Homo sapiens: one gene and its partners. The protein of the gene in region 3 interacts with the protein of the main gene of each other region in a pairwise test. Each region holds a gene or a part of one and is shown on either strand. Other genes may lie near its edges.

Region 1 (3,972 bases), on a different chromosome or scaffold from region 3:
TACTGACCTCAGGTAATCTGCCTGCCTTGGCCTCCCGAAGTGCTGGGATTACCGAGGCCCGGCCCAAGTATTGAACTCTAATACCAGATGTCAGGGATCACGCTGGGCACTGGAGAAATTAAAAAAAAAAAAAAAAAAGGAATGGGGCTGGACGCGGTGGCTCACGCCTGAAATCCTAGCACTTTGGGAGCCCAAGGCGGGCGGATTACCTGAGGTCTGTTTGAGACCAGCCTGGCCATGAACATGGTAAACCCCTACTCTACTAAAAATACAAAAAATTAGCTGGGTGTGGTGGCATACACCTGTAATCCCAGCTACTCTGGAAGCTGAGACAGGAGAATCGTTTGAACCTGGGAGGCAGAGGATGCAGTGAGTGGAGATAGTGCCATTGCACTCCAGCCTGGGCAACAAGAGCCAAACTGTCTCAAATAAAAAAGAAAAAAAAAGTTAAATACTTGGATGAATAAAAGCAGTTAATGACAACGTGGTGAGGCTATTCTGTTAATTAATGGAATAAGAAATACTAGGGATAATGAAAAGATGTTTGATGTTTATTTCCACCTTGCACTCAGGTCTGAGCCACAAGTACATTAAGACATTGAATGGTATCACCCAGGGAATACGTAACCAGACAACACACAAGACTGAGATGCACAAGTGGTGGTGGTGGTAATTCACGCAGAAGGAACCAGACAGTAAAACAAAAATTGCCCAACACACCAAATGATCAAATCCGCCACCTCTAGGATAGGCAAACTTGATTGCTGGGTTAAGAACCCTAGAGGTCTGTTAAGGTGGGCAGAGAAGGGGTTTTCTCAGCTTAGATTGTCCTGACATCTAACTGCCAGCAAGCACTGTACATATAATTTCCTGAGAAACCAAGTCCTTAGTGGGAAGGGTATCCCTTTGACCAGATCTTATGGCTTAAATTGGTCAGGTTTGCAAAACCTCAAAGCCTCCATAACCAAAGCTAGGGAGAGGCTCTATATGCTACAAGCAGTACCTCCTCACTGCAGGTAGTCTGCGCCTTAACCCTCTGCAGGGAGACTGACTGTAGCACCAAGTACCTGGCTTTTTAGACTCTACATAGGAATTCCACCATAATTAAGATGTATAAACTTGACCTACAGCCTAAAGCCCAATATGCTTCCCTCAAGAACATCAACAGTGTTCAAGCTTAGCTTTGTTACAGAAAATGAGGTAGGGTGCGGTGGCTCACATCTGTAATCTCAGCAGTTTGGGAGGCCAAGGCAGGCGCATCAGCTGAGGTCAAGAGTTTGAGACCAGCCTGGTCAAAATGATGAAACCCCATCTATACTAAAAATACAAAAATTAGCTGGGCATGGTGGCACACGCCCATTATCCCAGCTACTCAGGAGGCTGAGGCACTAGAATCACTTGAACCCAGGAGGCGGAGGCTGCAGTGAGCTGAGATCACGCCACTGCATTCCAGGGGAAAAAAAAAAAAAAAAAACCGCAACAGATGTCTCAATTTTTGACATTAGTCATCTTGAAGAACACCTCTAAATGCATGAACTCACTGCAGACTGACCCAACCTCTTAATTCTGGCTCCTTGCTTTTCCTGCCTCTGCCTACCTTTGAGACACAAGATCTGTGAACACCCAGGCTGTACAGTGGCATGATAATAGCTCACTCTAGGCTCAAGCAATCCTCCCACGTCAGCCTCCAGATCAGCTAGGACTAGGCATGCACCACCAGGCCAGGCTAATTATTTTTTGTAGAGACAGCGTCTCACTATGTTGCCCAGGCTGATCTTGACTCCTACCCTCAGGTGGTCTTCTGCCTCAGGTAATACATTACAGACAGTGAGCCACCATGCCCAGTTGCTGCCTACATTTTCAATATTCCACTCAACAAACATTGACACTTCCTGGGACTGGAAAGTAAAAAAAATCTAAGTACTGTGTAGAATTAAGCAAACAAGTGATGTTTCAGAAGTAACCCATTACTGCTTAAAATAAAGCCTACATCAACACTCTTAACTCAAACGAGGACAATTGTTATTTAGTTTTTATTTCATAATCATAAACTTAACTCTGCAATCCAGCTAGGCATGGGAGGGAACAAGGAAAACATGGAACCCAAAGGGAACTGCAGCGAGAGCACAAAGATTCTAGGATACTGCGAGCAAATGGGGTGGAGGGGTGCTCTCCTGAGCTACAGAAGGAATGATCTGGTGGTTAAGATAAAACACAAGTCAAACTTATTCGAGTTGTCCACAGTCAGCAATGGTGATCTTCTTGCTGGTCTTGCCATTCCTGGACCCAAAGCGCTCCATGGCCTCCACAATATTCATGCCTTCTTTCACTTTGCCAAACACCACATGCTTGCCATCCAACCTTGAAAAGGAAGAACAATCACTATGACTGGCAACCACAAACAAGCAGCCTCCATGTGTCATGAACCAAGACGAGAAAGGTAGCTTTTTTTTTTTTTTTTAACTGAAGCCTTTTGTACTAAATGTCATTAAACATGATTCTCCAATTACCATTAAAGAGTTACACATATAGGCCGGGTGCGGTGGCTCACGCCTGTAATCCCAGCACTTTGGGAGGCCAAGGCGGGCGGATCACGAGGTCAGGAGATCGAGACCATCCTGGCTAACACGGTGAAACCCTGTCTCTACTAAAAATACAAAAAATTAGCCGGGCATGGTGGCGTGTGCCTATAGTCCCAGCTACTCGGGAGGCTGAGGCAGGAGAATGGCGTGAACCTGGGAGGCGGAGCTTGCAGTGAGCCGAGATCGCGCCACTGCACTCCAGCCTGGGCGACAGAGCGAAACTCCATCTCAAAAAAGAGTTACACATATAGAATGAATTGCGCCCCCCTCCCCCAAAAACAAACAAAACAAAACAAAAACCCCAAAGAAACAAAAAACCCAACCAACCGCATGTTATTAATAGTAACATAAAAGCAGCACTTAATTGGGTGGGCACAGTGGCTCATGCCTGTAATCCCAGCACTTTGGGGGGGTCAAGGCAGGCAGATCACTTGAGCCCAGGAGTTCGAGACCAGCCTGGACAACATGGTAAATCCCGCTCTACTAATAATACACAATTTAGCTGGGAGTGGTGGTGCATGCCTGTAGTTCCAGCTACTTGAGAGGCTGAGGCAGAAGAATTGCTTGAACCCGGGAGGAGGTTGCAGTGAGCTGAGATGGCACCACTGCACTCCAACCTGGGAGATAAGAGCGAGATCCAGTCTGAGAAAAGAAAAAAAAAAAAAAAGCACTTAATTGGTTGGGCGCAGTGGCTCATGCCTGAAATCCCAGCACTTTGGGGGGCCAAGGCAGGTGGTTCACCTTAAGTCACGAGTTCAAGACCAGCTTGGCCAACATGATGAAACCCCGTCTCCACAAAAATACAAAAAATTAGCCAGGCATGCTGGCACACATCTGTATTCTCAGCTACTCAGGAGGCCAAGGCAGGAGAATCGCTTGAACCCAGGAGGCAGAGGTTGCAGTGAGCCCAGATTGTGCCACTGCACTCCAACCTGGCAACAGAGCAAAACTCCATCTCAAAAAAGTAGCACCTAATTCAACCACCCAGCTAAGGGCCAAGTTTCTATCATAGTATCTGACATTCTGTATCACATTGGCTATATTTGTCGTTTATGTATGCTCTTCTTCTAGTATCTTAGGGATGAAAAAGTCTGTGGAAGCAAAGGTTGAAGAAAAGTAGTGTTTGTTCCGTTCCCCCCAGGGCAACTTTTCATTTAGTCAGGTGGTTAGTGTGCCATGTTGTACCCTTACCACTCAGTCTTGGCAGTGCAGATGAAAAACTGGGAACCATTTGTGTTGGGTCCAGCATTTGCCATGGACAAGATGCCAGGACCCGTATGCTTTAGGATGAAGTTCTCATCTTCAAATTTCTCCCCATAGATGGACTTGCCACCAGTGCCATTATGGCGTGTGAAGTCACCACCCTGTCAACATATAGGAAAAATGTCAC
Region 2 (6,922 bases), on a different chromosome or scaffold from region 3:
CATAGTCTGCTAGTCGTTCTTTCAAGTAAAAATGCTACTCCATGAAATAAGCCATTCATTCACAACCCAATCTCACAAATGCTTTTCCTTCATGACAACAATCACACCTCCCTAGGCAGCATAAATGCTTTATCCATGTTTATTTAATCACAAATTCTTAAAAATTAAAAAGACATGTAGTCAAAAGCTAAGACTTAATAATAATAGGCCGGGCACGGTGGCTCATGCCTGTAATCCCAGCACTTTGGGACGCCGAGGCAGGTGGATCGCCTGAGGTCCGGAGTTCGAGACCAGCCTGGCCAACATGGCGAAACACTGTCTCTACTAAAAATACAACCAGGGAGGAAGAGATTGCAGTGAGCCGAGATAGTGCCACTGCACTCCACCCTGGGCGACAGAGCAAAACTCCGCCTCAAAAAAATAAAAATAGAATAATAAATTTTACTGCTTCAAGGGCATTCTCAAGTAGTTTGGTGCCCCTGACTTGCTTTGTGCTAAGGTACCGCCAGTAGTTTTACCCAGCCTTGCTTTTGAACCATCAGTGTATCAGTGAAAACAATAAATAGCATCTTACTATTATTTTGAAAATAGTTATGACCTTGAGGCTACCCTGAAAGGGTAAGAGGAGATCCCCATGGGTCATCTGTCCACACTTTGAGAACTGCTTTCCTACATTATACCACTAGTTCAAGATGGGAGTGGAAACTCTAACTAAATCAGGTTCGTCCCAAGAGTCCATTCTGTTACCTCCTTTAGTTTGAGATACACCACCAACACAGCTCTGGAAAAGGGAAGGAAATCAACGGCACAAGGTGTCACTTGTTTCAACATCTTGAACACTTTTATGTTAGACCAGTAATTCTCAATGTAGTGGTTACATTAATCAGTCTCAGCCCCAGGACTGCTCATTTGAAAATGTAAAGATGACAACCCCCCTCTGCTCCATTCAAATAAATTTGGGGGATGAGGCCCCCCAAATTGTACGTTTAACCACCTTCAAGTTACTTTTTATGCACCCCGAAGTTGAGAACGATTGTGCTAACAGTTCGAATTCAGAGTTCAAGCTCTCAGACCCTGAGCAATAGTGTCTCAAAATTAATCGTTTGCCAACGAGCAGCCCTCCCTGCCCCCTCCGTTTCCCTTTCCTCTAGTTGGGTAAATGCCTACAGAAGTAAAACCCGGCCGGGCGCGGTGGCTGACGCCTGTAATCCCAGCACTTTGGGAGGCCAAGGCGGGCGGATCACCTGAGGTCAGGCGTTCAAGACCAGCCTGGCCAACATGGTGAAACCTCGTCCCTACTAAAAATACAAAAATTAGCCGGGCGTGGTAGCACATGCCTGTAATCCCAGCTACTAGGAAGGCTGAGGCAGGAGAATCACTGGAACCCGGCAGGCGGAGGTTGCAGTGAGCAGAGATCGTGCCACTGCACACCAGCCTGGGCGACAAGAGTGAAACTTCGTCTCAAAAAAAAAAAAAAAAGTAAAACCCCATTTCTGTGGAGTTTTGAGCGGCGGTAAGAGGTGTCTACGGGCTTGGAAGGACGGGCTACACCGCTTGCATCAAGACGGCGGCTGCTGTGAGATAGTCCAACTGCATCTTAGTTTCCATTTCGAAAATGAGACTGGCCACTAAATGACTCTAAGGACTCATCAGCACTACCTTTTTCTGAACTAAGAATGTCTAAGACAAGTGCTACTAGCAGTTTGAGAGAATCCCACATCTGGAGAGGAAGGAAATAAGAACAACACGCAGAAAGACGGAAAACAAATAGATCAATGACAGTACTCCTTTGCAAAAGGTGCCAAGAATCTAAATAAAATAGTCCCCGGGATAAACATGGCGCCCACCGCGGCAGGACATAATCACCAGAAAATAAAGATTCCCCGCCTCATTCCATTTTATAAATCACGGCGCCATCCCAAAAGAAATTTGGGGACCGAGGGAGGAGACTTCGTAAACTAGCTGCAGTGCACTAAGGCTTAGGATGTACTATTAGACCAAGCAGAGATTACATAACACAAGGGATCGGCTCAGCAATCACTCATTTTCCTCCTCCCGCTCAAAACGAGCGCCCCACTCCTTCTCGGAGCGGGAATGGGGCGGGGAGGGCCGCGCACCCCCACCCCCAGGGGCCGCTCCGCCGCCGCCCGCCCCTCCGCCGCACGGCCTCGCCCCCTCGCCGGCCCCTCCCGCCGCGCCCCGCCGTCTCGCCACCGCCCGCGCCCCCGCCCCCGCCCCTTCCCCAGCGGGCCACCGCCCGCGCCCGCGCCGCCCACTCCTCCGAGACGCCTCGCGCCGAGCGTGCGTGTGGACGTCGGGCTGTGTGCGGGGCCGTGGGGCGCGAGTGCGCGCGCGCGCGCCGCGGCGGGCGCCGGGGGGCGGGGGCGGCCGGCCAGCCGGCAGGCAGGGACCTCCGCCGCCGGCCCTTCGCGCGGCTCCCGCGGCCCGGGGCGCACGCACACACACTCGCGCTCGCGCGCCGCACCCCGCGGCCGCCCCTGCCGCGGGCCGCGCCGCCACTCGCGGTGGGCGGGGGCGCGCACCGCCGGCCCCCCGCCCCCACCCCCGCGCGTACCGGCCCCATCCCCCTCTCATTGTCTCGCCTCTGAACGCCTCGCCGAGCGAAAAGATAACGGAACCCCCGGGAGCAGGGGGTGGGGAGAGAGAAGGCTCGCTCGCTCACTCACCTCCTGTGGTCGTCGCCGCCGGTAGTCTGACCCGAGGAAGGCGCCGTCGCCTTAAAGGGACCTTACACCCGGCGCCAGAAGGGGGTGGGAGCAGGGGGAGGGGACGGGGGCTTGGGGGGAGACGAAGAAGAGGTAACCGTTGAAAGCTCGTCTCCCCAAGGGTGAAAGGAAGCCTCCCTCGGGTTCGAGTGATTCGGGGTGGATTTTTTTCCCGAGGGGGGCGGGGGGGCCCCGAGGGAGGGGGGTGGGGGGGCCAAGGAATGCGGCTCCGTGTACGGGAGCTGGCGCGGGGGAGAGAGACGCCGACTCCCCCCACCGACCCTCTCGCCCCGCGGAGGGATACGGCTCGTCACTTCCGCCCTCCCCTTTTTCACGGCCTCCCAATTGGTCGGAGCGCGCTGCACGTCATGGGCTCATCCAAACCCCTGCCCGGGCTTCTTTTCTAGTCAAGTTTGGCTGGGCCTGCAAATAAATAAATAAAGGAAAACATTTTTTGTAATGAAAAAAGAATAATTAGCTTCAGAAGCTATATCTAAATTTTGGTGAGAAAAATGAGACTTCCAAAGAAAATATTCCCCAATTTACTTGCCAAGAGTTTCCAAGGAAGTGTTGGGAGGCTCCCCCACTTTCCACTCAAGGCTTAGACCCAGTCAAGAGGGAGACTTCATGACACAGGCCAGGTGGTGAGGCCCAGTGGCACCAACAACTGTCATTGGAACAAAGAACAAAATGGCACTCACTCTTTCTCAAGAGACACTCGGCCAAGTAACCTTGTGGCTGCGGCCTTGTTTAAGTGAAGAACTTTTAAAAGCCATTTTGATCCTCAAGCCCTTCTGGATCCTGGAAAGAAGTGGCACACGATTGTTAAAGCGATTATTGTGATGGAAACTGCTTTGCTCCCATTGTGAGTAGATTCAGCAGAGATCCCCAGTTCCAAGAAACCACACACACTCCACATCCTTATGCTTTTTGCTCCAATCAAGGCTGAGATGGGTTGGCTCAAAGAAATTGGTTAGTCCACTCAAACGACCATCCACCTGTTTATTCTTCCCCAGACAAAAACTACCTCTTTTCAGGTAGCTAAGAAATTTTGTCCTTTATTGCCTTCTGAGATTATAAAAATGTAATATTTTCCTTGAATATTTGAAAATGTTTGCTATTTAAGCAATACACAAATATTTGCTTCAAACCAAATGTGAAATCAAGGTACTTGGTGCAGAAAGGGGAAATCCAGAACTATGTTTATTTGTGCTCTTTATATACACACTCCATTCAAACCACCAGACTGAAAATAGGCAGTGGAAGTAGGCATTCCAAATTGTATGCACCTGCCCGTGTGAGTGTGCACATGTGCATACACATACACACACTGCCACCACCCAGTTTCATTCCATTTCATACCAAAACCATGTGAGTGATTTCCACTAGTGTAGGATGCTTAGGAAGGACTTCATTATTTGAATGAGAAGAATCACTAAATCCTTCTGAAAATACTTCTGAAGACTTTCCAGACCTGATCTGGAGAAGCCCATATTAGGATTATGGGATCAATCACCAAAAGACTACATGAAACTCAAATCCTATTTTATACTGTCGTGTAATTAGTATAATTCATTATATATGTTATATTTACATTATGTATATTACGTTATTAACCTTTGAAAAATTCCAACATATTTCCCCATGCCCTGTCAATTTATTCTCCCAGCCAATGAGATCTAGCGCAGACTATGCCATATACCGTTGACCAGTAACTGTTAGCATGCTTTATTGAAAATGGATCATGCATCCATTCATTCATTCAATGAATATTTATTGGGGGCTGGGCATGGTGGCTAACACCTGTAATCCCAACACTTTGGAAGGCCAAGGGAGGAGGATCACAGCAGTCTGAGGGCAGCCTGGGCAACTTAGCAACATCCCATCTCTACAAAAAAAAATTTTTTTTTTTTAAACAGAGTCTCGCTCTCTCCCCCAGGCTGGAGTGAAGTGGCGCGATCTCGGCTCACTGCAACCTCCGCCTGCTGGGTGCAATTCTCCTGCCTCAGCCTCCTGAGTAGCTGGGACTACAGGCGTGCGCCACGATGCCTGGCTAATTTTTTCTGTTTTTAGTAGAGACGGGGTTTCACCAAGCAGGCTGGTCTCGAACTCCTGACCTCGTGATCTGCCCGCCTCCGCCTCCCAAAGCGCTGGGATTACAGGCGTGAGCCACCGTGCCTGGCCCCAAAAAATTTTTTTCATTAGCTGGTTGTGGTATTCCTAGATACTTGGAAGACTTGGGAGGATCACTTGAGGCCAGGAGTTTGAGACTGCAGTGAGCTATGATGACACTACTTGCACTCTAGCCTGGGAGGGACAGAGCAAGATCCTGTCTCAAAAAAAAAAAAAAAATTATTGAGCACATGTACTAGGCACTGTTTTAGGTGCTGGGAATACAGCAGCAACAACAACAACAAATACCTGAATCTGTGGGATTTATACTCTAGAAGGAAAGAGACATAAAATATACACATAAACAAATTGTTCTATTGTCTATTGTTAAATAACAAATGACCCCGAACTTAGTGGCTTAAAACAACAATTTCATTACCTCTCATGGTTCTGGGAGGTAATTAGGCTCAGCTAAACAGTTCTCACTTGGGAGTCTCGTATGCAGTGGCTAGGGCTGAAGTAATCTCAAAAGCTTCCTTACATGTCTGGAAGTTGAGGTTGACTGTTGGCTTGGACCGCAGCTGGGGTTGTTGGCAGACCATTTACAAGTGGCTTCTCCATGTAGCCTGGGCTTCCTCATATCATAGTGGCTGAGTTCCAAGACTGAGTGCCCCAAAAGGACCAGACAGAGATCGTGACCTAGTCTCAGAGGTCATATAGTGTTACTTCCATTACAGTTACAGGATGGAGAGCATAGATCCCCATCTCTCAACGGGAATAGTGGAAATGTCACATTGTAAGAAAGTGTGCGGAAAGGGAAATCTTGTGGCCATCTTGGAAAATGCAATCTGATATACATTATGTAAATAAATATGGATTATATGAAATGGTGATAGGTGCTATGAAGGGTAAAGGGCAGGATAGGGGAATTAGGAGTGTGGTGCAGACATGGGGGTGGAGAATTTGCTATTTTATGTGGGGTGATTGGAGAAGTCCTTGTTAAGGTGACATTTGGGCAAAGACCTGAAGAAAGTGAAGCAAAGTTTAGGTTTTACCTGTAGTGAAAATGAAGCTGCTGGAGGATCATAAAGCAAGTAGTGACACGGCCTGACTCACGTTTTTAAAGGATCACTGTGGCTGCTTGTGAAGAATAACTAATAGAGGCAAGGGCAGATGCAGGGAGACCAGATAGAAGGCTATTGCAATAATCCAGGTGAGAGTTGATGGTAGCTTGGACCAGGATGGGAGTTGTGAAGCTGCTGCTTCAGGTGATTGAGTTCTGTGGTGTGTTACTTACTCCTCTCTATTTTTCTGTCATTTAGTTTGTGCCCTGGGAGACAGTTTTGACCCATAATGCCCAATAAAATGAGTGATGGTGCTATGCCTGCCACCAAGAATACAGAAAGTCTATCATGCTAAATGTAAAAGTGGGAGTTTTGCAGGATCTGGAGGCACCTTTGAGGAAATGGGTGAGGAAACAGAGGGTAAAGATCAACAGGCAATTAGGGAATGGAGTGTCTTTTGACGTTGTAAAAGGTATCCTGGCCAGGTGTGGTGGCTCATGCCTGTAATCCCAGCACTTTGGGAGGCCGAGGTGGGTGGATTACAAGATCAGGAGTTTGAGACCAGCCTGGCCAACATGGTGAAACCCCATCTCTACTAAAAATACAAAAATTAGCCAGGCGTGGTGGCACATGCCTGTAGTCCTAGCTACTCAGGAGGCTGAGGCAGGAGAATCGCTTGAACCCGGGAGGTGGAGGTTGCAGTGAGCCGAGATCACACCACATCACTCCAGCCTGGGTGACAGAGTGAGACTCCATCTCAAAGAAAAAAAAAAAAAAAGGAAATGATGAGCAAAGACATTTTATACCTTCAGAAGATTTCAAGGAAACTCTGCCACCTTACATTACAACACTGGTGCAGCACTTCAAAAGAGACTATACAGTTAACACTGCTATTTCCAGAAACGTATTCCTTGTGCTAAAGAGAGAATGCTCATATTAATTTGGACAGTGTTGGAACATTTTGCTTCTTCAGCTAAAACACAGGTTTCCAGAGTGAAGTAACAGAACTGATAGCTTTGG
Region 3 (7,035 bases):
AATTATTAGTTCTGTGCTTTAAAGCAAGAACAAATAATGTAGTCAATTATTTATATGTATATGTTAAATAGATGTTCCAGGCCAGGTGCAGTGGCTCACGCCTGTAATCCCAGCACTTTGGGAGGCCGAGGCGGTTGGATCAGCTGAGCTCAGGGGTTTGAAACTAGCCTGGGCAATATGGCAAAACCCCATCTCTACAATACAAAAAATTAAGGGCCGGACATGGTGGCTCACACCTGTAATCCCAGCACTTTGGGAGCCCAAGGCAGGCGGATCACAAGGTCAGGAGTTCGAGACCAGTCAAGCCAATATGGTGAAACCCCATCTCTACTAAAAATACAAAAATTAGCTGGGCATGGTGGTGGGCGCCTGTAGTCCCAGCTACTCGGGAGGCTGAGGCAGGAGAATCACTTGAACCCAGGAGGTGGAGGTTGCAGTGAGCTGAGATCGTGCCACTGCACTGCAGCCTGGGTGACAGAGATTCTGTCTCAAAAAAAAAAAAAAAACAAAAAGAAAAAATGCTGTAGTCCCTCATCATAAGATAGACCAAGGTCCAAGAAATCAATTAGCTGATTTAACTAAGAATATACCTAAATGAAGTTTTGTCCCTCATGAAATGAAAGCTATAAGACAATTTTCATTTAATGGGCTTATACACACAAAAAATGAAATACTATAGATAAAATACTAAGTAGGCATTTAACAAAAACTAGTTCCCTCTCCTTCTTATAAAACCGTAAAGTATTTTAAAAGCAAAGTGCAAAAAGAGAACACATACCTTAAGTAAAACCTCTACTATGCTGGCATGGCCCTCAGAAGCTGCCATATGTAATGGTGTTCGGTCCACTTTGGTTCTGGCATCTCTGCTCACACCAGCTCGCAGCAGTACCTCTGTGGTGGAATAATGACCATACTGTGCTGCTAGATGAAGTGGAGAAGTTCCCAGCTGTACCACAGAAAAAAAAAAAAATCCACATTTACATTATTGTTACTACACTTCTGTTTATATAGTAAACAGATTTTCTTTACATTATCTGTTTACATAGCAACTCAAAACTCAAAAGAAATGCCTAGATTCATGCTTATCACATCCTCTTCATAGACATCTTGAAGAATTCCCAAACACTCTCAATGAAGAAGAAAATCCAGTATTTCCTTTAATTCAAACTTTCTTTCTTCATTATTTTTTATCAGATAAACTGCCTGAACAAAATTAATTTCATTAGAAATTAAGATATAGAGGCCGAACGTGGTGGCTCACGCCTGTAATCCCAGCACTTTGGGAAGCCAAGGCGGGTGGATCACTTGAGGTCAGGAATTCAAGACCACCCTGGCCAACATGGTGAAACCCCATCTCTACTAAAAATACAGAAATTAGCCAGGCGTGGTGGCATGTGCCTGTAATCCCAGCTACTCAGGAGGCTAAGGCAGGAGAATCGCTTGAACCCAGGAGGCAGAGGTTGCAGTGAGCCGAGATCGCGCCACTGCACTCCAGCCTGGGTGACACAGCGAGATTTTGGTCTAAAGAAAAAAAAAAAAAAAAGAAATCAGAGATAGAGTTTGAGAAATTTTTCTGTGTATTAGAATGTATTCCTCATACCAATCACACAAAACTTGCTAAGTTAACTTCGTCTGTAAAATTCATCTCAAATAAATGTAACAGTGTACATTTTTACTTTAAGTGGATCAAAATTGTTTTGTAGGTCTTAAAAAATTCACGTATTGAAACATCTCAGTGATCTTTTTAAAGGGATTTTTTTCAAAGGAAAAATCTTAGGTGCATTTGCCAAAGTTGAATCAGGACAAAACCAAAACAGAGCCCAATTCTCCTGAAATTGGTTCCATGTGGTCTAGTCATTAAATTGACATCCACAATACACAGAGGGAGTACTAAAATGTGAGGGAAGGAAGATTAAGTTCTATCACATGCATTTAAAGGCACAGAAAATCCCTATAACCCTCTGATTACCACATCACTTGATATTCCAAAGAACTAAGATATTTGGACTAAGGAAATTTACACATATAAACAGTTTATTATGTTATGAAGAGATTAAGTGAGATATATGTATAAAGGTCCTTAGTCCTATCTCTCTATCTATCTATCTATAGATAGAGAGATAGATATATTTTTTGTTTGTTTGTTTGTTTAATTGTTGTTTGTTTAATTAGAGACAGGGCCTCACTGTGTTGCCCAGGCTGGGGTGCAATGGATATTCATAGGTACAATTATCACACACTACAGCTTTGAACTGCTGGGCTCAAGCAATCTGTCCACCTCAGCCTCCAGAGTAGCTGGGACTACAGGCACACACCAACAAACCCAGCTAAACCTTACATTTTTAAGAGAAGGTCATCCCAGCAGATCAAAGAAGATCCTTAAACAATCCTTTCTTTCTCCATGCTTTGTCAATTTTTCTTTAACTAGCCTTTTCTATACTCTTAAATTTCAGTATTTAATGAAAATATCTCAACAGCCCATTTAGCAACCAGGAGCTTTGCTCAGTTTGACATTAGGATCTACTTTTTTATTTTTGTCTTCTGAGACTTTCCCTTCTTGGTTATTGACACAAAATATATATACATATATGCAGGGTTTTTTGTTTTTTTCTGAGACAGGGTCTCACTCTGTCACTCAGGCTGGAGTCCAATGGGGTGATCACAGCTCACTGTACCTTCAAACTTCTGAGCTCAAGCGATCCTCCTCCCTCAGCCTCCCGAAGTGCTGGGATTATGGATATGAGCCACCACACCTGGCCATGTAGTTTTTGTAGCTTTTTGGGTTTTTTTTTATTCATTTTTTTAGAGTCAGCTTCTTGCTCTGTCGCCCAGGCTAGAATGCAGTGGAGCTATCGTAGCTCACTGTAACCTCTAACTCCTAGGCTCAAGCAATCCTCCCATCTCAGCCTCCAGAGTAGCTAGGACTACAGGCTGAGCCACCATGCCTGACTAATTTTTTTCTTTTTGTTTGAGATGGGGTCTATGTTGCCCATGCTGGTCTTGAACTTCTGGCCTCAAATAATCTGCCACCTCAGTCTCCCAAAGTGCTGGGATTACAAGCGTAAGCCACTGTGCTCAGCCAATATATGTAGTTTAAGGCAAACACCTGTGAATCAACACCATAGTCTAGAAATAAAACACTGCCAGTAATTTAAAATCTGGCCAGGCGCAGTGGCTCACGCCTGTAATCCCAACACTTTGGGTGGCCAAGGCAGGTGGATTGCCTGAGGTCAGGAGTTCGAGACCAGCCTGGCCAACATGGTGAAACCTCATCTACTAAAAATAAAAAATTAGCTGGGTGTGAGGGTGGGCGCCTGTTATCCCAGCTACTTCGGTGCCTGAGGCAGGAGAATCACTTGAACCCGGGAGGCAGAGGCTTCAGTGAGCCAAGATCATGCCACTGCACTCCAGCCTGGGCAACAGAGCGAAACTCTGTCTCAAAAAAAAAAAAAAAAAAATCTTCCCACATGCCACTCCCTGATCACAAGCCCCTCCCCCAGCCCCAGAGGTAACTAATATTTTGAATTTTGTGACAAGCATTACTTAGTTTTCTTTGTATCACTTATCCCTAAAAAATATACTTTGGTTTTGCCTGTTTTGAGTTTTATTTAAACAGAATTATACTGCATGTATTTCTCTGTGACTTGCCTTCTTTTGCTTGACACTGTATTCATGAGATTCACCATGTTAATAACTGTAAGTATAGCTTACTAATTTTCTGTGTTCTATAATATTCCATTGAATGAGTAAACCACAATTAATTTAACCAATCTACTGATGAACATTTAGATTGTTTCCAGTTTTTGTGTTATTATGAATAATGTTGCTGCTAAATACAGTAGTCTTGTATATGTTTCAGGCACATGAACAAGTCTTCTCTCGGGAATAGTCTTAGAAGCCCAACTGCTACATCATATACTATGCACATCTCCAAATTTACTATGTGCTGCCAAACTGTCTTCCATAACGATTATACCAATTCCATACTTCCACCAAAAATATTTGAGAGTTCCCACCATCTCCTCACCAAGCCTTGGTACTGCTCAACTGTTTTTGCTAATCTGGTGGATATATAATAGTATTTCATGATTTTACTTTGCATTTGCCCCAATTTTAATGTAGTTGAGTATCTTTTCATGTTTATTGATCAAACTTTCTCCTTGGTAAAGCACCATATCCAGTCAGTCTTCTATTGCCTTGTCTTTTTATTGCTAACCCATGGGAATTCCTTATGTATTATGGATACTAATCCTTCTTAAGATCTTTCTGTCTTTGGGAGGCCGAGGCGGGCTGATCACGGGGTCAGGAGTTCAAGACCAGCTGGCCAACATATTGAAACCCCATCTCTACTAAAAATACAAAACATTAGCTGGGCTTGGTGGTGGGTGCCTGTAATCTCAGCTACTTGGGAGGCTGAGGCAGGAGAATCACTTGAACCCGGCAGGCGGAGGTTGCAGTGAGCCGAGACTGAACCATTGCACTCCAGCCCAGGCAACAGTGTGAGACTCCATCTCAAAAAAAAAAAAAAAGATCTTTTTGTCTTGAGGTACTACAGCATCACTATGATATATCTAGATATAGATTAGTTTTTAAATTGATCCTGCTGGAGATTTGTTAGGCTACTCAAATCTGTGGGCTGCCATCTTTCATCAGTTCTGGAAAATTCTCAGCAATTACCTCTTTGAATTATTTCATCCCTATTTTTGCTCTTTTTGTGGATCTATGATCAGATGTTAGACTTTCTCACATGATCCTTCATGATTCCTAACATCTCTTTTACATTTTCTATCTATTTTTATCTGTGACATAGTCTGGATCATTTTTTTTTTCATACCTTTCAGTTTACTAATTTTCTCTTTAGCTGTTTCTAATCTGTTACTAAAATTTTATCTCAAGTCCTTATAGGTCTGCTTCTGTTGACAGTTGTTTTAGCAGATTACTGTCCAAATTGGCATGTGTTCATGTGTTTAGTTATTTCTGACTGCTCACTTTCCTTTGAATTTCATTTGTGGATATGAAGCCTGGGATGAAGGCAGGTTCCTCCAGAGCAGATATTCATTTGCTTCTGTCAAGAGCCTGGGGTAATCCCTAGTCCAAAGATCACTTCAAATTCATTTCTCAGTTTACAGTTTTTTAGACTACACAAGTATTTATGAGTTCAGGCTGCAAGTGTGTAAAAAGGATGCCTTGTGATTCCAAATTCTCACCATCAGATTGTTTTCCTCTCTCCATTTGATGTCTTGGTTCACATCAGCTTATTATCTTTGCAGCATCACGGCAACAGGGGCAAGGGCAGGAGCAGACAGGAGGAGGGACAGGGTATTCCTGCTTTATCCCTACACTGAAGGTGCAGCTCTTTGGGATTCCAGAATTATGAGATAAGATCTCCTATCAGACTTCTCTCCATGAACACTCTCAGGTCTTTAGCTTTAGTACCCCAAGCCAGTGAGGTGGAAAAACCACCAGACAAGTGTGAGTTCACCTAATGTTCTTTAGGGTAAAATTTCTCTGGGTTCTTGCCTTCACTTAGTTTTTCAGGTTGATAATCTCTTTCTTTCTAATTCAGCAGTGTACTTAAGAAGACTTTCTTTAAAATATTTCATCAAAAAGTCTTTATTCTTTAAAGATTTATTTATTCTTTAAAGAAACATTTATGGATAAAATGATATGGTCCCTGGAATTTGCTTTAAAATAATACAGAACAAAAAATAATACAGTAGACAGAGTTATAGAGGAAACAATATTCATCATGATTTGATAATTTTTGAAGTTGGGTAAAGGGTATTACAGGGATATCGTTGATATATATTTGAAATTTTCTATAATAAAAAATTTTGTTTTTTCATGAAAAATGTAAAAAGAGAAAGAAAGGCAAAAACGGCAAAATCAAAAATCTGGAATTTTTAGTTGTTACCAATGGGCAGGTTAATTCAGATTCCTAGCATTCCATATCCACAAGACAATACTTTTTTATTTGCCCCCAGAATTAAAGAGTTATTTTTTTTTGCCTTCCCCACAACTACCTTCTTTCCATAGTTGTCAAGATCTCATTCCCATTCCTTTCTTCCTCTTTCGTCATGTCTGCAACAGTTTTACAAGTAATAATTGAAACATAAACTTGTTTTTCTTTTAGGAGTGACTATTAACACTAACTCCAATCTTTATCAGTATCTTTCTGAATTATAAATTCTACCTGTGCTATTTATAAGGCCTTTAAATTAAATCCCAAGCAGATACATTTTTATATTCATGCCACATTAATGCACTCCACAGTTTGAAAGAAAAACTCTTTGTGGATGAAATATTTGGATAAGGTTGTCCAATATCAAAGAAAATAATATAAACCACTTCTTTTAGGACAGTTATAATTCTAAAATAATAAACACATTTGCAAAAATAATAACTTTTTACCACTTATAAACACAATACTGACTACATTTTTCTCTGCAAAAACTCAAAAATGAGAAGGAAAAAGAACACACAATATTAAAATCATTCTTTACCCAGTCTGTAGTAAAGGGAGCTCCATTTGCCATCAAAATACGAACTTCATCATCTTGACCTGCTCGTGCCGCTTCTAAAAGCTTCTTTCCCAAATCTACCAGGGACATCTAAACAAAACATAGATGAACTGAACATCAAAATCTCCATTTATACACTATGACATGACATTTTCCCTTCCTGTCTTTATTAATAAGTCAGTTCTCAATTATCCCTTCAAAAGAGTGTGCTATGGTTAATTTAAAATTACAGATCATACAAAAGCAATTTATATTTGGATTTTAGAATCCATTTTCCTTTCTCATTAAGTTTTTACTTAGAATAAAAGTAGTTTAAATTCTCCAAATACATCTGGTAAAAGATAGAAGAGGTAAGTAGCAGAGAAAAGCTGGCCTAAATTTTTATTTATTTATTTTTTTCTTGACACAGAGTCTCGGCCTGTCACCCAGGCTGGAGTGCAGTGGCACGATGTTGGCTCACTGCAACCTCCGCCTCCTGGGTTCATGTGATTCTCCTGCCTCAGCCTCCCAAGTA

Evidence for each region. The genes of interacting proteins can lie anywhere in the genome.
Region 1: the proteins of GABPB1 (region 3) and PPIA interact in binary tests that used the Homo sapiens proteins (3 or more experiments, as listed by UniProt).
Region 2: the proteins of GABPB1 (region 3) and POGZ interact in binary tests that used the Homo sapiens proteins (3 or more experiments, as listed by UniProt).

The regions. Positions count from the first base shown.
Region 1 is NC_000007.14:44,799,676-44,803,647, reverse strand, and holds the end of PPIA (peptidyl-prolyl cis-trans isomerase A), read right to left. Parts: intron 3,947-3,972; coding exon 3,774-3,946; intron 2,362-3,773; coding exon 2,226-2,361; 3' UTR 531-2,225; downstream 1-530. UniProt on the Homo sapiens protein: Catalyzes the cis-trans isomerization of proline imidic peptide bonds in oligopeptides.
Region 2 is NC_000001.11:151,456,465-151,463,386, forward strand, and holds the start of POGZ (pogo transposable element with ZNF domain), read right to left. Parts: upstream 3,031-6,922; 5' UTR 2,688-3,030; exon of another isoform or gene 2,596-2,687; coding exon of another isoform or gene 2,576-2,595; intron 1-2,575. UniProt on the Homo sapiens protein: Plays a role in mitotic cell cycle progression and is involved in kinetochore assembly and mitotic sister chromatid cohesion.
Region 3 is NC_000015.10:50,303,188-50,310,222, forward strand, and holds part of GABPB1 (GA-binding protein subunit beta-1 isoform beta 2), read right to left. Parts: intron 6,612-7,035; coding exon 6,504-6,611; intron 947-6,503; coding exon 779-946; intron 1-778.